7 linked regions of the Homo sapiens genome follow. The protein of the gene in region 2 purifies or fractionates together with the protein of the main gene of each other region. This does not show direct contact. Each region holds a gene or a part of one and is shown on either strand. Other genes may lie near its edges. The genes, in order: PIGO, SLC22A5, GPR180, TMEM39A, PGAP4, TMEM165 and AMFR.

The links.
Region 1: the proteins of SLC22A5 (region 2) and PIGO purify together in Homo sapiens (affinity purification with mass spectrometry; one large-scale study listed by BioGRID and IntAct). This does not show direct contact.
Region 3: the proteins of SLC22A5 (region 2) and GPR180 purify together in Homo sapiens (affinity purification with mass spectrometry; one large-scale study listed by BioGRID and IntAct). This does not show direct contact.
Region 4: the proteins of SLC22A5 (region 2) and TMEM39A purify together in Homo sapiens (affinity purification with mass spectrometry; one large-scale study listed by BioGRID and IntAct). This does not show direct contact.
Region 5: the proteins of SLC22A5 (region 2) and PGAP4 purify together in Homo sapiens (affinity purification with mass spectrometry; one large-scale study listed by BioGRID and IntAct). This does not show direct contact.
Region 6: the proteins of SLC22A5 (region 2) and TMEM165 purify together in Homo sapiens (affinity purification with mass spectrometry; one large-scale study listed by BioGRID and IntAct). This does not show direct contact.
Region 7: the proteins of SLC22A5 (region 2) and AMFR purify together in Homo sapiens (co-immunoprecipitation; 2 studies listed by BioGRID and IntAct, with this or other methods). This does not show direct contact.

The regions. Positions count from the first base shown.
Region 1 is NC_000009.12:35,090,890-35,093,591, forward strand, and holds part of PIGO (GPI ethanolamine phosphate transferase 3, catalytic subunit), read right to left. Parts: intron 2,692-2,702; coding exon 2,532-2,691; intron 2,321-2,531; coding exon 2,141-2,320; intron 1,879-2,140; coding exon 351-1,878; intron 1-350.
Region 2 is NC_000005.10:132,376,210-132,379,709, reverse strand, and holds part of SLC22A5 (organic cation/carnitine transporter 2), read right to left. Parts: intron 1,547-3,500; coding exon of another isoform or gene 1,475-1,546; intron 1,333-1,474; coding exon 1,229-1,332; intron 1,226-1,228; exon of another isoform or gene 1-1,225. UniProt on the Homo sapiens protein: Sodium-ion dependent, high affinity carnitine transporter. Involved in the active cellular uptake of carnitine. Transports one sodium ion with one molecule of carnitine.
Region 3 is NC_000013.11:94,600,731-94,604,656, forward strand, and holds the start of GPR180 (integral membrane protein GPR180 precursor), read left to right. Parts: upstream 1-1,126; 5' UTR 1,127-1,197; coding exon 1,198-1,342; intron 1,343-3,926.
Region 4 is NC_000003.12:119,446,616-119,450,115, forward strand, and holds part of TMEM39A (transmembrane protein 39A), read right to left. Parts: intron 558-3,500; coding exon 403-557; intron 1-402. UniProt on the Homo sapiens protein: Regulates autophagy by controlling the spatial distribution and levels of the intracellular phosphatidylinositol 4-phosphate (PtdIns(4)P) pools.
Region 5 is NC_000009.12:101,477,174-101,480,673, forward strand, and holds part of PGAP4 (GPI-N-acetylgalactosamine transferase PGAP4), read right to left. Parts: exon of another isoform or gene 3,498-3,500; intron 2,751-3,497; exon of another isoform or gene 2,667-2,750; intron 1-2,666. UniProt on the Homo sapiens protein: Golgi-resident glycosylphosphatidylinositol (GPI)-N-acetylgalactosamine transferase that catalyzes the N-acetyl-beta-D-galactosamine transfer from an UDP-N-acetyl-alpha-D-galactosamine to the 4-OH-position of the first mannose of the glycosylphosphatidylinositol (GPI) of a GPI-anchored protein (GPI-AP).
Region 6 is NC_000004.12:55,398,957-55,402,456, reverse strand, and holds part of TMEM165 (putative divalent cation/proton antiporter TMEM165 precursor), read right to left. Parts: intron 1-3,500. UniProt on the Homo sapiens protein: Putative divalent cation:proton antiporter that exchanges calcium or manganese ions for protons across the Golgi membrane.
Region 7 is NC_000016.10:56,363,749-56,366,545, forward strand, and holds part of AMFR (E3 ubiquitin-protein ligase AMFR), read right to left. Parts: intron 358-2,797; coding exon 173-357; intron 1-172. UniProt on the Homo sapiens protein: E3 ubiquitin-protein ligase that mediates the polyubiquitination of lysine and cysteine residues on target proteins, such as CD3D, CYP3A4, CFTR, INSIG1, SOAT2/ACAT2 and APOB for proteasomal degradation.

The sequences.
Region 1 (2,702 bases), on a different chromosome or scaffold from region 2:
TCTTTCTTTCTCTCAAACACATACAGCTCAGTGCCATTATATATTCACAATTTACTACTTCCATCACTGGAAAATCAAGAAATGTGCTCATGAGGATGCAGCATTTCCACAGGGAGTCTTAGAGGACTCCTTGTCTCTCCTCTCCATGAACCCTGGGAACCAACAGGAGGGATCAATTTGCTTGGCTATGGCAGGTAAGAGAGAGGACACCAAGAAGACCTTCCTAGTTGTGTGGGGCATGGGACCCTCTGTCAAGCTCAGGAACATGAGGAGCAACACCTCCTTGAAAACAAGAGGGGCCGAACTCACATCACTATTGTCTTTAAGTGAATCAGAGCTGAGATATTTACCAGGGGTGGTGACGGGTATCCCAGCAGCAAGCAGATGTAGGAGAAGGAAGCTCTGCAGAAACAGAAGCAGGAACACAAGGCTGATGCGCTCCGCATGCAACAGCAGAAGTGGGAAGGCCAACAGGGTGAGGGCTGTGACCATAGCAGCTGAGTAGACACTCCCCAACTGATAAGCAGCCACAGTCAGGGGACCCTGAGATTTGGTCCTCTCTAACCGGCCCCGGAACTCCTCCTGCATGTGTCGGTAGATTTGAGGGACCACATAATCCAAGTCAGCTTGAGAAGTGGGGGGGCCTGAGAAGGGAGTGAGGACAGTCCTGGTCCTTGGAGCGCCTGCCCCAGCCTTCACCAGCACTGTCACAGGCTTCCAGAGCAGCAGCGCGAGCCCTGAAGCAGCCAGCCCTGCTACAGCCCGAGGCAGCACCATGGATGCCCCAGAGACCAGGACCCGGAGACGGGGGGGAGCCTCATCTGCCCCCGACGCCAATGCCCAGTAGGCAGCAGTACCCAATGCCATTAGGGGCAGTCCCCAGCGCACAAAGAGCATGGGTGGCTCGGGGCTCTTGAGATTACCATAGCGGCGAAGCCACAAGCGCACGGCAGCTAACAGGGCCACCAGCGCCGCCACACAAGCTCCATACCACAAATTCTTGGCTCGACCACCCACCATGGATGCCAGAGGACTCAGCCAGGGAGAGGAGTGGCAAACAGGTGTCTCTTCAGGGCAACGATGAAAAAGCCCAGCTAGCCTTGTACATAAAAGCAACCCAATTCCAAGCCTCAGGGCATATGCACCATTGTGCCGTGGGGGGTTTGTTGTGGCTGAAGTGCCAAGGCGGGGCATTGTGAGTAGCTTAGGTGGAAGCAGCTGGCCCTCCCAGTGAAGCTGGACAACCAGGAGCAGGATGAATGAGCCCAAAAGGAAGGGGGTGGCCCTGGCCTCAGCTACAACAAAACTATCAGAGAAGAACACAGCCAAGCGAAACAGCAGGAGTAACAGGACGGGCCCAGGGATGGGAAACAGGGTTGCCAGGGGCCTCTTGGACCCCCAGCCAGCCCAGGCTTTCCACAGAAAAGGGAGGAATGAGCTCACTGCAGCCACAGCCCCTAGAAGCACTAGATCTAGCTTCAGCTCAATAGTTCCCAGGAGTCCAGCATACGCTATGGCCCCAACCAGGCCCCAGGCCACAGGTGTCAGGAGTAGAGGGCAGAATGGAAAGCCTGGGGATATTGCCCACTGAGATGCCAGCAGGCAGATAAAGCAGGAAGCAGCCAAGAGAGCAGTACCCCCCGCCATGCGGACCAGAGAGAAACGAGCCCAAGACTCGATGCACATGGCCCGAGCTCCCCGCAGGAACTGCTGCAGCTCAGCAATCACAGTCGGCAGTGTCGCCTCAGCCCCCTTGGGGCTCTGGAGAAGCCACTGGTAGTCAGCAGAGGCCTTGGAGAAGAGGTTCTGCAGCTGATGAAGCTCCTTAGCTTGAAGGTCCTGAGTAGCAGCTGAGTAGGTATGAAGAAATCGGGACACCTGGCAGAGAAAAGGTCAGAGGCCAAGGGGAACAGGTCAGAGACATAAATTGGGGCAGAGGCAAGAATAGGTATTACAAAAGGGGGTACCTGGAAGTCAAGGACCCAAACTCTGTCCAGAATCGGGGAAGGGAGGGATAACGGAAGAGGGATAGGTATGGAAGGTGGGACTAAGACTAGTCAAAGGACAAAAGAGTGGTTCATTATGCTTCTTTCATGCCCACCCTAGCTCTGTCACCTGGAAACCCAGCCCGCTTACCTACCTGCTGAGCATTGAGATGGAGAGCTGAGGCTTGGGCTAAAGCAGAGGAGTGGGGCTGGGAGTCCTCACCCCCTGAGAATAGCTCAGCCATCACTTCCCCGATATTCCCAAATGGGATGGGCAGGCCCAGCAGCAGGGCCAGCGTGGGCACAAGGCTAACTTGAGGAATCACCTCTGGCTCCTAAAGGAAAATGACAGTGGTCAACAGATTCATCACAAAGCTGAAGTCAATGTTTGGGATGGCAGACATAGGGGCCTAGGTAAGAAATGAGAGTGGAGGATACCCAGGATCATGGATTTGGGGGCCTAAAATAGAGGTATTCATGAGGATGCTGTAATGGTAACATGGGCTGATTACTGGGAGAACAGATGAGGAACATCCCAGGCCTCACCTCTGGTGGGGTGCTGGGGAAGACTGCTGTGGGGCTATACAGAAAGAGAGCAGCTGAGACCTCCAGCTCACTGTCCCCTCCATGGTCTCCATTTGTGGTCATCCCATGGTCCCCAGCCACTACCAGCAGTGTGTCATTCTCCAGACGCTCCACAAGTCCCCTGGGGGCCAA
Region 2 (3,500 bases):
GAGTTTGAGACCAGCCTGACCAACATGGAGAAACCTTGTCTCTATTAAAAATACAAAATTAGCTGGGCATGGTGGTGCATGCCTGTAATCCCAGCAACTCGGGAGGCTGAGACAGGAGAATCTCTTGAACCTGCGAGGCAGAGGTTGCAGTGAGCCGAGATCGTGCCATTGCACTCCAGCCTGGGTAACAAGAGTGAAACTCCTTTTCCAAAAAAAAACAACAACAATAAAAAATATCTGGCTGCGCATGGTGTCTCACGCCTGTAATCCCAGCACTTTGGGAGGTTATGGAGGGAGGATTGCTTGAGGCCAGGAATTAAAAACCAGGGAAGATGCTGGGACTCCTTTCCACCGGCTAACCCACCGATTTGTGGGGTGTTCTCACATGTGTCATGTGGCCAAGGACTTGCTGAAGGCTGCTACTCTCTTCACAGTCTTCTCTGACAGACCCTGAAGCTCCAGGGAAAGAAGACACAACATAATGGACCCCTCTAAGAACTTCATGAAAGCTACGGACCTCTCTCCAAAAAAATGCTCACATGTAGTCTCTAACATTGTGCATATAATTTCGAGGGGTTTGGGATTCTCTAAGCCGTTAATGTTTCCTTGAGTTAAAAGCTTTAGAATTATACAAATAACCTGCTTATAAGAAATGGATCAAAACACTATTCTCCCTCCTGTCATAAAGTAAATGCCAAAACCACAGGCCACTTAGCTAAGGGGCATCAGCCTTGTGGACAAAAGAGTTCTGCTTTTCATACCACTAGTGGCTGGTGAGAGCTCCTTTCACTTTGCAGAGAGAATGCTGGTCTTCTTGGGACTACAGAGGCAGACACCGTGGCACTACTACAGATCTACAATCTAGCACATGTGCATGTGTGCATGATGTCAACCTCTCCCATGCTCAGGGGCATGACAGAGTCACAGTGACCCAGGGGAGGCAAGCCAGGCTACTGCAGAAGTGAATCATGGCATATTACCTAGTCAACCGGGTCACAGATACATTCAGCTTAGACAGCTCAGGTTTCTTTACTTAGCAAGAATTACGGAGTCAGATTTGTTGGCTCTTCTTACTAGGCATGGAGTCTATATCACAGACATAGCTTCCTCTTCTTTAAAATACAGGGCCCTGCGCTGAAAGAATACTACCAACTGAAATCAAGGGCCAGGCACACGCTTCTTCCTCAGTGCTGAGGTCCCCTGGTGCTCCAGAAGACAGACACCTTACCTGTCTGACAGCTGCCCTGAAATGAAGGAGCCCAACAGCACACCCACGAAGAACAAGGAGATTGTGAGTGGGGCCTTCCAGTCGTCCTCACACACCAGGTTCCACTGCAAGATGAGCAAAGGGGGTGTATCATTCACTTCTTTTTAAAAGGTTTTAAAGCAAAGGCATCCTGGAAAATGAAGTCAGAACATCCTGCCATCCCCACACGCTCTGAGTGTGAACTCACTTAGTCAGGTGATGGCTCACCTGGGCAGGAAGGCAGAGAGCAGGCTTCTTTCCCATCCTGTTTTTCATAGCATTGTAGGCCCCACTGTCTTGCTTCCATTTTGAGGAGGAGAGACAGGCAGAGAGTAAGTGTTCTGTCCACATGCTGACCCTGGAGAAAGCAAGGCCTCTAACGCTTGCTCCTAAAAATCTGAGCGGAGCCCAGGGCTGTGGAAGAGGCAGGGCACCCTCGCTCAGTGGGGTTCAGGCCATTGGCATGAACGTCACTGGAGTGGTTCTGGAAGCAGGGCTCTGGGGCTCTACGGGCCAAAGCATCCAGCAAGAAACTAAGGCCAGGGCACAGAGTGCACCATCTGGACCTGCTCTGCTCGGGTTCCCACCCTGGGCCAATGACCCCCGGGTCCTTTTTGTGACCTTTAGAGCTGGAATCCCTGATGCTGCACACCAACTATACTAGGCTCAATTACAGCTGAAAGTCCTGAGCTTGGAGGTAAGAAACTGGGTTTTAGCTCCCACTCTACTATTAAAACTCTTCCAACCTCAGATAAGCATCACCCCATGCTGTGCCTTGATTTCCCCATTTGTAAAACAGGGATTGGGGTAAGGAATAGGCTGCACCGCTTGAGTTTCCAGCTTCCAATGTGTGGTTCCATCTATAGTTACCATGAACAGAAAAAGAGGTCTGAAGACATGGGGAAGCAGCCAGACGCTTGGATCTGGCTGCGCCTGCCTAAACAAGAGCCAAAAGCAGGAAGAAAGCCCAAACGGGAAACTTAGTGGTTCACAGAAAAATGAAAAATGTTTTTCAGACAGAGAGATGGTGCTCAGTAGTAACCTTTGCAGACTTCTCACATGAGCAACCACCCTCCTAGGAACTCAGACCCTTGCCTCCCTGGTGCCAGGCTGCTAGCCTGCCCTCCACGGAGCCTGCTGGCTCCTCACCAACAACGCAGGCAAGGGGACATGCGGCTCCCTAGAACAAAGCATCTCTTCCAAGCCAGTGACAGGGAAAAACAAGCCTGCTTCTCCGCACTGCTGGGCAGTGTGGGCGCACAGCCTCCGGGCACCTCTCAGAGGGGTTGGCAGGCAACCCTCAGGCTGGACACGGAGAACTCCCGCAGCAGGCACACTGCTGGTGCTCCGCTTTGGAATAAGCGTGAACCTGGATGGGCTGGGAGTAGGGTGGCAATCCCCAACCCAGGGAAGAACTGGAGCATCCAACCCCTAATCAGGAGGCAGCCCAGACTAGCAGGAGTCAAGAACATGGGAGGACCACAGCCTGACTGCCCAGGCTGCCACAGCCTCCAACCTCCACAGCCTCAGAAGGGCCAGCACCCACAGGCCATCTCTCTGGTAGGTGGGTAAGTATCCCTGCAGTGGCCCCCACCCACACATGGCTGCTAAATCTAGGACTGGGAGTGGAGGCGGAGAAAAAGCTGAGGGAATTGATGACAGGGTGCCGGCCTCTGTGTGTGAGGCCAAGCTTCAGGGGCCAGGACCTGGCTCCTGCCACTCTTGAGTATGATGGGCTCTATTTCCCAGCTAGCATGTCTTTTATAGTGGAAAAGATGAAAACATGAACAAAGGGTCAGCAGCGGTTTCTCACAGGACTATCATGAGGTGAGGGTTGGGGACCCATATGGCTGAGCTAGACTAGCAATCCACGTGGGCTTCTGCAGTGAGTTCTGGGGTTGTAGACCCCAGGACAGGTCTCCCAATATCAGGCTTCTAAAGACTCCTTGGCTGGCAAGGTTGGGTGTGACCTAAAACCAGGTCAGACAATCTCTGCAGGGGACAGGGTGACTATAGTGCTCATTTTGAGATAGGCCCCAGAGCATCTCTCAGGCTCCCTTAGCCCCACCCTCTCTACTTGGTCCAGCCTGTCCTTAGTCTAGGCAGGTGTGTAACTCCTTGGTTAACTCTGCCATCCACCCACCACTGACCGCCCTTGACAACTCTCTGGGCCTGGCTTTGGGCCCTCCAAAAGCAAATATGCATTAACACTTCTTTCCTATTGGCCGCAGGGGGTCTGTGAGCAGGATCAGGA
Region 3 (3,926 bases), on a different chromosome or scaffold from region 2:
GAAGTAAGGGATTCTGGTTCCAGGGGCATCTACTACAGACTTAGGGGTTTGAGAAAGGCTTCTTAAAGTGCCTTGGGAAGGAGGAGTAAAGGAGGAAAAGGAAGGTGAGGAGGTCCAGTGTTGGAATAAGCAGAAGTATTCTAGCCAGAGGGATCAGGGAGTGATATAGGCCTAGAAGGGAGAACTTGGGAGTGTTCAGGAAACCAACGGCGGTAAGGATGGAGATGAGAAAAAACAGACATTTGAGAGTTGAAGAGCCATATTCTAGAGTTTGGGTTGTGTGCTAAAGGCAATTGAGAACCTTTCAAGGCAAGTGCAGCAAATTGTTTCCTACAGCTTTCTGTGGCTGTAGGGTAGAGATGGATTGTAGCCAATTAGAATGAAGACTGTAGAGACGGTCTTTGCCATAGGCCAACAAAGTGATGAACTGAGTAGGACTGTGGCCGCTGCTTCCCACCCTCACCAGAAGAAGGGCTAATCCACACTTGTTATTGAATTGATTGAATTGCGGGGGGGGGGGGGCCTACAATTCCCAGCGGTCTGGTCTGCGGGCGGGGGTGGGGGTGGGGGTAATGTAATTCGAGAAGCCAGAGAACCTAGGAGGGAAAAATCGGCTGGAGATGCCAAGAGAAGGCATGCGTTAAATTGTGGTCATGCGGAGCTAAGTGTCTTTGAGACATTAAATCGGACACGTCCTGTAGGTTATACAGGCGCCAAGGAAGAAAATCTGCATAAGAACACAGTTTTTTCTTTGCGGGAGTTTAACTCTCTCGGCCAGAAACAGTCCTGTCCTGCATTTCTTAAGTTTTTTCCGAATCCCACAAGCCCTTCGAAGGCCCCGCGGACTCGTGCCAGCGCGCCCGCGCATGCTCAGTAGCAAGACGTGCTAGGCAATGAGGAGGGAGATGAGTTTTCCGTAACCTGAAGCAACATCCTCCTGATTCCTCATTAAAGAAAAAGGCGGGAACTAGTCAAAAGCCGGGGACTGATGGGACGCTAGGATCTGCGCGTCCCGCCCATTTCGGCCTCTGACTGGTGAATGTCTTCGGCTTATGGCAGAGGAGCCCGCCTCATTGGCTCTCAGGCTCCAGAGCAGCAGGTCTCCGGCGCCCACCCCGCCTCCCCCAGCTGCCGACGTGGGGCGGGCAGCCGCCGGCGGCTGGGAGCCGAGGCGTCGGTGCAGACCTGGAGACGGGCATGGGGGGGCTGCGGCTGCTGGCTGTGGCCCTCACGTGCTGCTGGTGGCCGCAGGGCAGCCAGGGTAAGACCCTGCGGGGCAGCTTCAGCAGCACCGCGGCCCAGGACGCCCAGGGCCAGCGCATCGGCCACTTCGAGTTCCATGGTAGGTCTGGGGGCGGGGAGGGGGATGAAGGCGCGCTGGCCCATCCCGCCGGCTGAGTCCGCCGGCCGCTCCTCCCGGCCCCTCCCTGCCACGTTGGGCGAGGCCGGCGACTTCCCCAGCCTCACCTGGACCTCCAGCGTTGCAGCAGCTGCCGCGAATGGTGGGATGCGTTCCTTGCCAACCCCGCTGGTGCGGCTTTCCAGCCCCAGGCAGCGGCCTCTCGCCACTAGTGATCGTGTTCCGCACCTGAAAGCTGGTTTCCATTTCCCCAACCCTCCCCTTGGAAGCCAATGTGCAAAAGACTGGTCGGCCGCATCTTTCCAGATCCTTCCCGCAAAGAAGCATATTTGCTCCTTCCTGTCTCGGCCACACTGTGACGGGAGAATTTAACCCTAGAAACTTAAATTTCCTTTTTTTTTTTTTTTTTTTTAAAGACCAATTTCCTGAGACCTACTTGCAACAGAGTGGTTTTGGAAACCAAGTAAAACACTTGATAATGTAGTTGTTATATTGAGCAGTTTGGTTACTTGGCTACTAGGGCAGTAGATTTACTATGGGCAGTAAGGCCTAGAATTAAGCTGATGAAAATGCATTTAAGTAGCATCTTGGAAGCTCCCTAATTTGTGTTCTGTGTGGCTCTTCTGAAATCAGAGTTGCGTTTGATTTCAGACCTTTTGGTCTTCCTCAAAAATCAGTAATTATTCCTTCAATAAATGCATTTGCAATTCATTCTAATTTTGGTCTCATTTGCACTCTCACAATTTAAGTGTTTTTCTTGGTACTCTTAATTTGACTAGTGCTGTATTTCAAATAATTATTTGCCTTGATGACATTAGGAACTTTGATTTGTACAGTCTTTAGCATTAAAAGATGCAACGATGAACATCAGAATATTGGCCTAGAAAATATTGTTAGGAGAAGATAATAGAAACGGAACTACTTTGGTGAGAAAAGGAATTTAAAGTATTGGGAAATTACAGAATTGACAGAATAAAGGGAAGGGATCCTGATTTTTTTTTTTTTTGAAGTTTTTAAGATAGCTAAGAAAAGGAGTTTCAGTAACCCAGTTTTTCAAAATCCAATGTGGAATATATTTTGGGTGAATGAAGAAGAAACACTAGAAACAATTTTATTATTTTTTGTAACATTTTGAGTTTCTCATTCAACGGACTGTAACCATACTTTGAGTATTGACAGCCACTGTCTTAAATGGCACAATGTGGACAGTGTTGGAAAATGTGGGATGTATAGAAGACGTGGGTTATTACTTAGGACCAGCAGAGAGACTTGGACGACCTCATAGTTCCTGATGATCATCTGGTAAACGTGGAGGAGAAACATGTACTAAATTCAGATTTCTCAAGACAGATTGGGGATAAGGTGTTTCAAGTGCGTTCATTCTGTTTCATATGTGTAAAATCACATATAGTTATTACCAATTTTCATGAATCCCAATTCAGTAAAATAATAATACAAAAACTATACTGAAACAATGAACTGTAACTCGGAATGCAATTTACAGTGTCAATTGGGCCTCAGAGTCACTTGTAAGACTTCAAAATATGTAATCAATTTATGTAAGAGACTTGCACATTCTTTGATATATATACTGTATATTTAAATATATTTAAAATGTTTAATCAAAGTGGTAATTATAGTAATAAAAGCATAGAAAAAAAATTTCCAGGAGAATAGAAGATCTTAAAATGAAAAACAGTCTCCTGTCTTAGCTCTTTCACCCAGAATCCCTTTCCCTAGAGGCAATAACTTACTGCCATTTCTGTTCTGGGCCTTAAATGTAGTTGGTGTGTGCAACCAGGTTCATTCTGTATTCATCTTACAACATATATTATTCTGAAAGTTCTTTTTTTTTAAAAAGGAAGCCAGACTCGTTGGGTGGCTCCTGCCTGTAATCCCACCACTTTGGGAGGCAGAGGTGGGCAGATCACTTGAGGTCAGGAGTTCAATACCAACCTGGTGGCTGGGCGTGGTGGCTCACACCTGTAATCCCAGCACTTTGGGAGGCTGAGGTGGGTGGATCACCTGAGGTCAGGAGTTAAAGACCAGCCTAGCCATCATGGTGAAACCCCGTCTCTATAAAAATATAAAAATTAGCCAGGCATGATGGCAGGTGCCTGTAATCCCAGCTATTTTGGGAGGGTGAGGCAGGAGAATCGCTTGAACCGGGGAGGCGGAGGTTGCAGTTAGCTGAGATCGTGCCATTGCACTCCAGCCTGGGCAATAGGGCGAGAATATGTCTCAAAAATAAATTAAAAAAAAAAAAAAAGACCAACCTGGCCAACATGGTGAAACGCTGTCTCTACTAAAAATACAAAAATTAGCTGGATGTGGTGATGCTGGGTGTGGAGGCGCATGCCTGTAATCCCAGCTACTCCTACTCAGGAAGCTGAGGCAGGAGAATCAGGAGAATCGCTTGAACCTGGGAGGTGGAGGTTGCAGTGAGCCGAGATTGCGCCACTGCACTCCAGCCTGAGTGACAGAGTAACACTCTGTCTCAAAAAAAAAAGAGTTTTGCTCTGTCACCCAGACTGGAGTGCAGTGGTGTAATCAAAGCTGACTGCAG
Region 4 (3,500 bases), on a different chromosome or scaffold from region 2:
TACTTCTGTTACAGGAAACAGAAGATCAAAGTAATATGACCAACCAAGGGTAAGACTGGTTTTCGAACCAGTGCATTCATCTAAAATTAACTACCGTTTACCCAAATATAGATAGCAAGAGGGGCCTTTACTTGGTGAAGAGAGACAATTAAAATATTCTCCACTGGCAACACACCCTACATTCCAGGTTTCCCAGGACAGTCCTGGTTTATGCCTGTTGTCCCAACTGTACTCCAGTTTAGAAAACAAATTATATGTTCACCATGCTCATGGATTTCCCAGTTTTCTAAATGCTTCATTTATATTTGAAGAATTTCATTTTTCACTCTTAAAAGTATCGTTTACGTGACCGAAATAATTTCTAAAGATTTACTAATAACATGGTAAAACTGGAGTACTCACGGGTAGCCAAGGAAAAGGAGATTGAGGACTGAATGGCTTCGAAAGAGATTGACGAGGGTCCAACAAAGTACCCATCCACACAAAGTGAGTAGTACCAAGCGAGCTGATATCAGAACCATGTAGTGAATCATTGATGCTGCACCTGCCTTAGTAGCCTGAAAGTTTGGAAGCACCAAAATGAACATTTTGTAAATGATCTTCTTCAAAAGCATTGTAATTCAAGTAAGAACTTAATAGGTTTAGTGGAAGCTAAAATGTGTCTTTAAAAAGTGAAATAAAAGAAAAACTGCCCCATCCCACCTTATCTTCGTAATAATTGAAAATTCAGACTTCTCCAGGCACAGTTGTTTCCTTCTTGCACCCCGAGAGTGCCATCTACAGAACTCTTTTAAGGTCTTTTTATATCATCTAATTTATTAACATTGGAGCTTCTCAAAGTATGTTCCACGGATCACATTATTTTGTTCCATCAGAATGACCTGGGCTACTAATTGGACATGTAAACTCCTAACAACTTTCCTCTCAAGGGGTAAGGAATAAAATCTTGAGTCAAGCAACCTATATTTTAACAACTTAACCAGTGTTTTATTTATTTATTTATTTTTAATTTTTTTTTTTCGAGACAAAGTCTCGCTCTGTTGCTGTTGCCCAGGCTGGAGTGCAGTGGCACAATCTTGGCTCACTGCAACCTCTGCCTCCTGGGTTCAAGCGGTTCTCCTGCCTCAGCCTCCTGAGTAGCTGGGATACAGGCGTACACCACCACGCCCAGCTAATTTTTGTATTTTTAGTAGAGACAGGGTTTTACCATGTTGGCCAGGATTGTCCTAACTCCTGACCTCGTGATCCACCCACCTCCCAAAGTGCTGGGATTACAGGCATGAGCCACTGTGCCCGGCCTGATTTTTTATGTACATAAACATGGAGAGACACTAATTTATCTGTCTTACTTCCCACTAAACTATAAAGGGCCTCAACAGCAGTAACAATATTTTTATTTTTCTTTGAATCCTCACCTCTAATTTGCTTGGTGAATTAATGTTTAATAAATTAGTGAAGTTTCAAAAAATAATCCGATCTTCTTTGACAGATCCCTATATAAATAAGTTTCTTTTTTAACTTTTGCAAACATGGAAATAATGCATAATCACTTCCAATTCTTTTTATCACAGCTATTCAAATATGCTTCTTCAATCGCAAATCTTTAAAACTGACTAAATATATTAAGTACTTGTCAAAACTTACTCTGCAATGCCATTTTCTTTCTGAATGAACTAGGGAGAAGAGAATGAGCAAAATGTAGGGGAAAATGGAAGATCCCCATAACCTCTAAGAGAGCAGTGATGGAACCCAAAAAGGAGAAAAAAATTATCTAGAGTCAACAGTACATGGTAGGGGATAAGGAGCTTTTCAGGTCCCTCCTATATATCCGTTTCTTAGTTTACAGATCATATTATGGAGTACCTATAACATATACGCAATATACTGTATACTGAATACTATATATATACAGCATATATACGTAATATATAGTTACTTTAAAATGCAAAGCAGCAGTTGAATAAATGCCATAATGAACGGCTTAAGCCTCAAACTGTGAAGATGGCTCAAGCTCTTCTCAGTCATAGCCTGGCACATAGCTTCATATAACTCCCCTGATACATACCTTCATGCCAATTTACCTCACATATCAAAGCTTAGTAAAGTTATTTAAGCTATTGGAGTTACTCTATTACCTCCTTCTCAAAAGTTCAGGGTTAGAAATAAAAAAGACTATTTCTGCCCAATGTCATCAGAGCACAGAGCTTGGATTTGTTAATTTTGCCTTATTCCAGAGCCCCAAGCCGCTAATCACTGTGGTGTATGTCACAGACCCTTTACCAGGTCCTAGGGGTACAGTGGTAACCAAGACAAACAAAACCCCTGTGCTTATGAAGCTGACTAACCAAGAAAAACAAATATTAAACTTTTATCTAATCATTTTTTTAATTGTAATGAGTGCTATAGGAAGAGTAGGCTGCTATGGAAAGTAAATAACAGGAGATCCTATTCTAGAGATGGCTTGTGTTAGTAAACGGTATTTAAGCTGAGACCTAAAGGATAAGCAAGATTTCGCTAGGTGAGGGGCAGAAAAATATTCATAACATTATGTTAATTTTAAAGTACAGGATATGAAACTGTATATAAATAATTCTCAAATATAGTAAAATAAATGTAAATATAAAATCTTCATACGCATATGAAGATCAGAAGAAAATATAGCAAAATGTGGTCTTTGGCCGGGTGCAATGGCTCACACCTGTAATCCCAGCACTTTGGGAGGCAGAGGCAGGTGGATCACCTGAGGTCTGGAGTTTGAGACCAACCTGGCCAACATGGTGAAACCCTGTCTCTACTAAAAATACAAAAATTATCTGGGCATGGTGGTGGGCGCCTGTAATCCCAGCTACTTGGGAGGCCGAGGCAGGAGAATCGCTTGAACCAAGGAGTAATCCCAGCTACTTGGGAGGCCGAGGCAGGAGAATCGCTTGAACCAAGGAGGCGGAGGTTGCAGTAAGCCAAGATCATGCCATTTACAGCCTGGGCGACAAGAGCAAAACTCTGTCTGCCCCCCACCCCCCAAAAAAAGTGGTCTTCAATAATGAGATTGTGAGCAATTTTTAAATGTCCTGCTTTATATTTTAGTGTTTTCCAAATTTTTTTCAATAAAATATACTATTTTCCTAGAAAAACAATTTTTAAAAAGAGAGTTGCTTCAGGTTGGTGAAAAAACAGCTAAATTTATTTCTAGTCTTGTGAAGCAAGTATAGAAGTAGAGTTAGCCTGGAGGTGAACAGGCAGAGCTGGCCTGAAGGTGAATAAACGGACTCTACCTACGTGGAGAGGTAGTCCTCTCTGAATAGCATTTCCGTTTATGAATTAATTACCAGCAGCCTCTCCTTAAATATTATTGATCTTTCTCAGGGTAGGGATCCTTTCTGTGATATATGCAAAAAAAGGAGGAAAACATATTTTAATGGAAGGAAGGAAAGATGATTTATGATAGGTTTTATCCATCTAATTTAGATATTTTAGGAGGAAAATCACTATACAGCTCTTAT
Region 5 (3,500 bases), on a different chromosome or scaffold from region 2:
AGAGAGAGGAAGTAGGGAATGGTAAGAGTAACTTAAAAAAACAAACAAACAAACAAACAAAAAAACAAAAGGACAAGAACTGAGCTCAGCACATATCAAACCAGAAATTATAATAGGAGGCTCTGTAGCTTCTACAGACTCTAAAGTATTTTCTACAGTAAACCATTCTTTGGTTGTGTCTGCTAACAACCTCTGGATGTTTTTATTATTTCTATGAGTAATACGATCTCGGTGCATTCAACCAAATCATCACGCCTAAAGATACTTAGTTAGGTTTACAATGCCAGAAAATCTCCAGGTAGGCTGTTGGGATCATTATTTCTATTCACCAGCTACACAGACAATGGGTTCTTAAAACGGGGGCAAAAAAGCAAGGCTTGGCACAAAGGAAATATACACATTTAGAGCAAGTTCCAGAATAAGGGCCCAGAAAATACTTGTTGATTAACTGTGCATATAGCAATTTCCAAAAAAAACTTGTCCAACAAGAGAAGGAATACTTAGGATTCTCTGAAGTATCTTTGTTATTTAATGTCATTTTCCATTCATATGCTTCTAATCTCACACAACTATACTTAACATTGCATATTAATTTAATCCTGATTGTTCTCCCATTTTATTTTTATAGATCATGGGAACCAATGAGAGGAAGTATTTCCCATAAGCAAGCAAACTCTAGAGCCCCAGGCTTGGGGAGGGAGGAAACATCTGGAGGAAGATCCATGAGTAGCTTTTCAATGAGGGAGCGGGGGGGGAAAGGCAGAGGTGAATATGGAAGAGACAGTTGCCCTCAGTTTGGTCCAGGAAAAAATGCTGTGTGATATGATGATTCAGAGCATGGGCCTGAGGCCAGGCTCATATTGGTGTGAATCCTAGCTCTGCCTCTCATTTGGTGGGAAGTTTACCTCTCCATATCTTATATTTCTTAGCTCTAAAATGGAAATAATAATATCTGTCTCATAGGGTTACTGTGAATATTAAATGTGTTAGAAAGCAAAATAATGCAGAGTAAAAATGCCATTAAAATCTATCCATGTGTTCAAACTCACAAAAATATTTTAGAAGTAAGCAGGTCTAATATTCTGATGGAAAACAGACTAGTGCCAAAAAACAGAATGAAAAGGGCAAAGCCAGTATAAAATAATAATTGCTAGTAAGGTCAATGCAAAACTAAATGGTGTCTGCAGTACAGAAAGTAAATCTGTTGCCTCAGACGCATCATAAGGTTTACACACATTTGGAGGAAAACTGTATAGTTTGTGAGTTATTGCAAAGGGAGGATTGCCCAGGAACCATACGAGGCTGCTGTGGAGCAGACTCAGCCAGTGCTCTCATATCCATGGTCTCCCCTTGGGCACACAGAAAGACCTCATTTCCTAGTTTGCCTTCTCCAGGTGGAGTCATGTGACTAGGGCTTGTCAGCAAAGTGACAGGTGTCACACCTGGGACAAGGTAGTTGAGAACAGATGTGCCATCTCGACTTTCTCTTTCCCCATCTGCCAGCTGAATGGAGAGCCCTGGTGGATCTAGAGGAGGTACAGCCACCAGATGGCAGAAGCCTGGGTCCTTGAATCCTTTACATACATATCCCAGTGTTGGGACGGCATGGAACAGATGTCCCTTCCGCTGCCCACCTCCCAGTACCCTCCCAAACTAGAGTGGACTGTGTTGTGAGCAATACATAAACCACTGTGTCTAGACACCAATAATTTTTGGACTTTATTACAGCAGTTAGCCTACTCTGCCCTCTACAGTTGTGTAGAATACCAAATGTACAGTGACATGGTTAATTTCTCAAGTAGAGAAACAAGTTTCATTTCAGCCACAGAAGCAGATTGTACTATGGGACTCCAAAGGTGAGACAGACTATCCTAGTACTAAGAGATCTGGATAGTACCCAAAGAGGGAACAAAGCAAGGAGAGGTTTGAATTATGCAACCCCAGTCTTGCTGGTTTGTGAACATCCAGCATATTGCAGACTGGTTGCTTCTTCCTCTGCTCTGCTCAGCGCAATGGAGTTAACAAACCATGTGGTTGAACGTGATTGAACGTGGCCTCACCACTTCCACATCACTGCTGATGGAAGCCAATACTAGAATTGGGCTGAACTCCCACTCCTGCAGTATTGGCCTTGGAAAAGGAGGCATTCGAGTGGATTTCTGCTCATACTATTATCCCTGCCTTTGTTATTACCACAAGGGAGCTGGATCAATCTAGAGGAGGGAACTAGAGACAATGAGATAGGGCAGGCAGTTTGGAAAATGCCAGGCACATAGTAAAGGCTATCACTTACTATGATATGTCAGGGGGGAAAGAAATGGAAACACCTAGAACTGACATCAGGAGAACCTTTGGTCCCAGGGAATTTATCCTACTGGGGACAATAAAATCATTAACATCTCACATAGTCCTTTACTTTAAAACTACGTCTGTGAGACTGCTGTTCTACTGACAATCAGGAAAAGAGAGGGATTTGGTTCAGAGGACACATGGTCCCTACCTATATTGATCAGCTTTGCTGGGGTGATTAACAGCCTCAAATCTTTATAACTTAAAGTGATAACATGTATTTCTTGCATACGGGTTTGTGGATAGCTGTGGCTCAGTTGGGGTCAGCTCCAGAATGTAGGTCAGAATTAGCTCATGCCACATGCCCCTCCTTCTAGATCAAGCTGCAGAGGAAACAGCCACCTGGGGCGTGTTCTTACGTTGCCTGGAAGCTGCACAAGAGGCCAAGTCAAAACATGCAGGTACATTTACATCCTTGTTTCAGTGTGCCACAAATCAAGTCCACTCATCATTCATTGGCCAAAACAATGGGACAGGAAGATTTACTCCTCCCACAGAGCAGAAGGAGGGGAAAATGAAGATTCAATAGAAAAAAAAAAGGCAACAGGCCAATTTCTAAATCCTCAGGAGAAAAGAAAGCATCTAGCAATCTGCTCACGGAGTATGGAAATTTTTTTTAGAATGCTTACAGGGCTTAAGACCCGGCCCCCAACCCCAATCATTACACACTACACGAATAAGGACAGGCTTCAGTAATGATCCCCAAAATCTCAGTGGCTTATAAGAACTAAGGTTTAATTCTTGTTCATAGTACTTGTCCTTTACAGGTCAATTGTGCCTCTGTTGCCTGTTGTTTGTACTCTAGGACCCAGGCAGATAGAACTGTTTTTTGTTGTTGTTGTTGTTTGTTTGTTTGTTTGTTTTTAACATTGCTGGTTTTGTGGTAGAGAGAAAAAAGGGGAATAGTGCACCACAAGCTGGCTCTCAAAGCCACTGCTCAAAAGTGACACAGATCACTTCCACCCACATTTCACTGACTGGAACAAATCACATAATAACTCAAATTCAACAGAGCAGAAGGGAGTGCCAAAAGATACATGGCCACACCTGAGACCAATGACTGGAGAAATATTTGTATTCCAGGGAGGGGCAGAAAATGTACTCCAGGGAGGGGCATTTTGAACATTAATGCAATCTACCACACCCACCTA
Region 6 (3,500 bases), on a different chromosome or scaffold from region 2:
AAAAAAAAAAAAAAAAAAAAAAATATATATATATATATATATATATATATATACACACACACACACACGCACGCACTTAAACAATGACACCACAGATAAACCTGATTTCGAAAGATAACATTAAAGTATTTTAATTTTCATTACGTATTTTTGTGAATGGTTTCACTATTTTTAAATACTTTATTGTTACTTGTTAATTTATATTAGAATTTATATGTAATATTTTGTAATAAAATTATTTTTTGTTTTAATGAATGTTTATTTTTATGAATGTTGTTTTGTAATGTATTTATGCACTTGAAATTTATTAAATGTGTTTAGTTTCTTTTTTTTTTTTGGAGACAGAGTTTTGCTCTTGTTGCCCAGGCTGGAGGGCAGTGGCACGATCTTGGTTCACTGCAACCTCCACCTCCCGGGCTCAAGCGATTCTCCTGCCTCAGCCTCCTGAGTAGCTGGGATTACAGGTGTGTGCCACCACGCCCAGCTAATTTTTTGTATTTTCAGTAGAGATGGGGTTTCATCATGTTGGCCAGGCTGGTCTAGAACTCTTGACCTCAGGTGATCCACCCACCTCGGCCTCCCAAAGTGGAGGGATTACAAGCGTGAGCCACTGCGCCCGGCCTTCATTGATTTTATTTTTAATGAATTTTTTTGATGACAGCATACCACTAAATAAATTCAGTATTAATATAATTACCTTCTGAGAAGGTAATTATGAGCAGGCGTCCTTATAACTGATTGCCTCAATCTTAGCTGTATAAAGGCTAGAATTAGGAGGCTGGACTGGGTGGAGTGGGACTGCAACTTAATGAAAATAGAAAAAAGTTTAAAATGTTTTGTAGAAGGTACTCTCACAGCTGAAACGTAATAAATAAATGAAATACCAAAACATAAAGTAAAAATATGATAACAAGAACAGGCACTGAGTCAGGTAATGATTTTGTGGCTTTATTAGAAGTGCTATGCAACCAGAGTCATTCTTCTTTGGACTTCCAGAATATGCAATAAAGTCTAAATGACTTTTATTAAATCTATCTGATCTCCCTCAACTCAAAGGACTTATGTTTCTTATATTACATATTCTGTCCAGGGAAAGAGTAAGAAAAAACTATTGAGTAAGTCACTAGAAACATAAACTGCAGAAAAGATAGGATCCAAGTAATCAACAACACTTTTTATCATGGGTTTGTAAATTGGGGGTTAATCTTGATTTTAAGTTCATATTACTTACCAACCTTTTTTTAGCCTAATTATAGAGAAAAGCACATACTCAATGTAGAATGCCCTGTTAGAAGTTCAGTCACCTTGCTTTTAGCATCCTATAAGATACAACTAGGTTTTTATAACATATCTTCCACTTGAATGCCTACTAACCAAGGAGAGATGCTTCCCCCCTCCATTTTCAGAAGCCCACTCTCACACAGTGGCACAAAAAGGTTAAATTTAAATATCCTACCTACCCTCTTAAAACATCTACTGCATGTAGTTGCAAAGCAAATCCGTTGAAACTTACATATTCAGCAAGGCTCAACTCTTGCTAATACTGCTGTTAAACTGTACTTTGATCATTTCTTACCTCCATCAGGTGGACAAAAATAGCCAATGACACTTATATTACATAGTTTAGAAAACATGTGAAAGAAAAATCTTTCAGCATAGTGAGTACCGTAGAGGAAAAAATACTTGAGTAGTATCAAAAAGTTACATAAAAATATAATTAAGGCCAGGCGTGGTGGCTCACTCCTGTAATCCCAGCACTTTGGGAGGCCGAGGCAGGCGGATCACCAGGTCAGGAGATGGAGACCTCCTGGCTAACACGGTAAAACCTCGTCTCTACTAAAAATACAAAAAATTAGGCGGGCATGGTGGCGGGCGCCTGTAGTCCCAGCTATGCTGGAGGCTGAGGCAGGAGAATGGCGTGAGCCTGGAAGGCAGACCTTGCAGTGAGCCAAGATCACGCCACTGCACTCCAGCCTGGGCGACAGAGTGAGACAAAAAAATATATATATATTATATATATTATATTTTTATATTTTAATATAAATATATTAATTATATTAATATTATTTATTATTATTATATTAATATAATTAATTATATTAATATAATATAATTAATATTATATTATATATAATACAGTATTAATATTATATATAATATTATATATAATATATAATATTATATTATATATTATATATTAATATAATATAATATTAATTACATTAATATATTAATATATAATATAAATATAAATTATATATTTATATATTATTTTTTATATATATTATATATATAAAATAAAAACAAGACAAGGCCAGGCATGATGGCTCATGCCTGTAATCCCACCACTTTGGCAGGCCAAGAGGGGAAGATCCCTTGAGCCCAGGAGTTTGAGGGCAGGCTGAGCAACATAGTGAGACCCTGTCTCTAAAAAAAAAAAAAAGGAAGAAAAGAAGACAATTATATTCTATTATAATACAAAATTAGAATAAACAATAATAAATAAATGCCTAACTAAAATGAATCACCAAGAATATATGAAAATATTAAACGGAAAAATCATATTATATTATACCCACCCTTCCCTCCATACCCCTAGTTTTAAAGACAAGGATCCCTTCCCAGCTACTCAGAAGGCTGAGGCAGGAGGATGGCCTGAGTCCAGGAGCTGGAGGCTGCAATGAGTTATGAGCTATAAGAAGACCTTGTCTCTATAAAAAAAATTAAATAAAACTTTAAAAGACAAGAATCCTTAAGACCATTTAATATGTTTACTGGACACTGTTTCTACCACTGTGGCATTCTGCATGGCTAGATTTTTCCTAGCTTCTTAAAAAGGATATTAGTAGCTCTACACCTACCATCATTTCTATCTTAAAAATTCCAATATGACTAAAACTTCAACAAAATACCTGCAAAGTTACATATTCATAATCTCTCACTCACACAATTAACTTAATCCAAAATAGTTATTGTTTTAAAATAAATGTGATACTGGGGTAAATGACAGGGCTAAAAGATGAACACTAAGAATTAAGTTCATCAATCAGCGTTTCAGTTCAATTACTGAAGTGGACATGTCAAGCAGGGTCAGCTGAGCCAGGAGCGACAAGCAGGGCAGTGTAAATGGGAACCCCACTCCTAAGCATATGGCTGGGGGTAGCAGGGCAGGCAGAAGGAAAAAGATGGAGAAGCCCACTCACCTCTTTGCTCTCCCCAAGTGGACTAAAGACCCTGGCTTCACATGTTAAATGATTCACACTTCTTGTACACCTCTGACATCACTGCATTATATCTCTCTGTTACCATGGGTTATTTACTCGTTGAGTTCCAGTGCTTTTGATCTTCTCTTTTTCTCTTTTTAAAAAAAACTTTATAAGAGTCCCGGAATTAACTATATAGTCAGCTGAAAATAAACTGTCTAAACCAACACCAATCCAATAATGGTTACAAAATCACATTATATCCAGCAGATGATAAAAGCTTAGTTCTCTTAATTC
Region 7 (2,797 bases), on a different chromosome or scaffold from region 2:
TTACCAGATGCTCTGGTTTTTTCAAGAGAGGCTTGAAATCTGAGTTTTGGGGTGGCATGTAATGCCGTTTCACTGTTGGCATCTGTTTAAAAAGAGAAGACGGCCTGACAACGGCCTTCAGCCACTAGTTTTTGATCTGGATTATGCCAGGTGGTCTGGAGAAGCGACTCACTTGCGAGCTTGCTGGAGGAGTTCGTCCTTACGCTGCACCAGCATGCGCTGTCTCTCATCAGCAGACTTGGAGAAGCGGCTCCCACGAGCCTCGAAGTCTTCCACCTCACTGGGCTCCACTTCCACCTCGCCGAAGTCCAGCGTCTCCTCCAGGCGAGGACTGAGGTCCAGTGGCACACGCTCGGTCTGGACACGGGGCAGGAAGCAAGGAGGCAGCTGTGAGCACAGGCCTCCCTCCTAAGCAGGTTCCTCACCTACAGGGCACCCCAGACACGGCTGTTCTGGACGCAAAGAGAAGGCTGCTGCCAAGCAGGGAGGCAGAAACTAGGAACCACAAGCTACGGATAATGGAGCAGCAGCTTCCCTGAGGGCAGGCCTGCTGCCTATGGCTTGAGTAGTACTAAGAACAGGACCTGACTCACACAGAATGTTCGGCATCAGAGGGTAAGTAAATGATTACCAGCATGAAAAACGTAAGCACCTTCAAGCTGCACTCTTAGAATACGCTACCAACACGACAACCGTGAGTTTACATCCTGGGAATTTTCTGTTCACTTCTACTAATTGCTCAAACATTTAAACCAGTCTTATCCAATCTTCTGCACAAATTTTATATCCTCAATTGACTCTGAAAACAGAGGTAAAAAGGAAAACTGCTAGGCATCTATTTATTTATTTATTTACAGACAGGGTCTCACTCTGTCACCCAGGCTGGAGTGCAGTGGCACAATCTCTGCTCACCACAGCCTCAACCTCCCCAGGCTCAGGGGATCCTCCCAACTTAGCCTCCCAAGTAGCTGTGACCACAGGCTCGTGCCACCACATCTGGCTAATTTTTGTATTTTTTGTAGAGACAGGGTTTTGCTTTGTTGCCCAGGCTGGTCTCAAACTACTGGACTCAAGCAATCTACCCACCTCAGCCTCCCAAAGTGCTGGGACTACAGGCATGAGCCACTGTGCCCAGCCCTAAGGATCTTTTGAAAAGACACAGGATGGATTATATGGTTCCTTGGCTTTGGTTGAAGCTCCAAAGTCCACGACAATGCCCAGGCACCCCCAGGTCCTAGCAGGTGCCTGACCATCTGCGCTGCTCATGCTCCCAGATGCAGACCTGCGCTGGCCAGGGTCAGCCCATTGCCCGCTTCTAGGCTGTGACAGAATGGAGGTGGGTGCAGCTGAGAGGCAGGCTGTTTTACTTCAGAGTTCCTGCTGGACCTACCCTCACTTTTTCCTGCCTTCAGCTAAGCTCGAGAGGGAACTTCAAGAGAACCATTCGTATCCCCGAGAGTCAAAGGACGGGGGAACTGGTGGCTGCATACACTTGAGAAATCTACAGAAAGAAACTGGCAGGAGCCAATAAAATACAGGGCCAGGGGAGCTGTGACGGGAGCACGTTCACCTTCCACTGACTCCAGACAACACTGTGTGTGTCCTGGAGCTTGGATAGGGCTCCTGCAGGAGGGAACCAACCTAAGGTTGTTGAAAACAACTGTGCCCAAAAGGACCACTTGGAGAGGTAACAGGACCCCCATGAAGGTGGGAGTGGTCATCAATAGCCAGCCCAGGGTCAAAGGAGGAGTTTCTGGGGCCAGATGGGGACAGGGAGATAGTTGGCATAACATGTACACACACACACACAGACACACGTAGTTGGCACAACATGTAGGTACATACACACACACGCACACACACGCTGGAGTCTCACTGTCCTATTCTATCCCTCTCCTCTAAGCCTGACCCTAGAGCAGGTTAGAAAAAATGGTGAGTGAAGAGGCGAGATGTTAGAAAGAAAACAGCCGCCCACCGCAACCCCTGCTCTGTGCAGCTGCATGCCTGACTAATACCAGCCTGAGCGGGGCAGGGCAGAGATTAGAACAGAGGGAGAGTGGAGCTGACAAGCTTACTGGGCTACACTGAGGTTTCTGTTAACTAATTGTTATTCAAGGACTTTGTATTTCTTCACAAATGACCAAAAATGTTGCACAGCAAGGTTCCCTGTGAAATACATACTTTCCTCCATTATATATACATATATATATATAAAATCCAGAACTCTTCATGCTAACTCTAGAAGCAGCAGTGGAAAATCAAGACAGGGACTGAATATGCTGTACCCACAGATGCCCCCAAGCCCACAGCATCCATATCTCAGCTGCGCCAGCTATTCAAAAACTGGAGGCCGGGCGCGGTGGCTCACGCCTGTAATCCCAGCACTTTGGGAGGCAGAGGCGGGCGGATCATGAGGTCAGGAGATCGAGACCATCCTGGCTAACACAGCGAAACCCCGCCTCTACTAAAAATACAAAAAATTAGCCAGGCGTGGTGGTGGGCGCCTGTAGTCCCAGCTACTCGGGAGGCTGAGGCAGGAGAATGGCGTGAACCCGGGAGGCGGAGCTTGCAGTGAGCCGAGATCGCACCACTGCACTCCAGCCTGGGTGACAGAGCGAGACTCCGTCTCAAAAAAAAAAAAAAAAAAAAAAAACTGGAAATGTAGACATGGACCCCTTAGAAGCCATGCACCATTTCACAAATGATGCATAATCCAATTACATAGGTGGATATGAAAATCTTAACCCAGCAACAGATTTGAAGAAGGCCTAGTAGTGTTTACTGTTTCCTCTTTGTA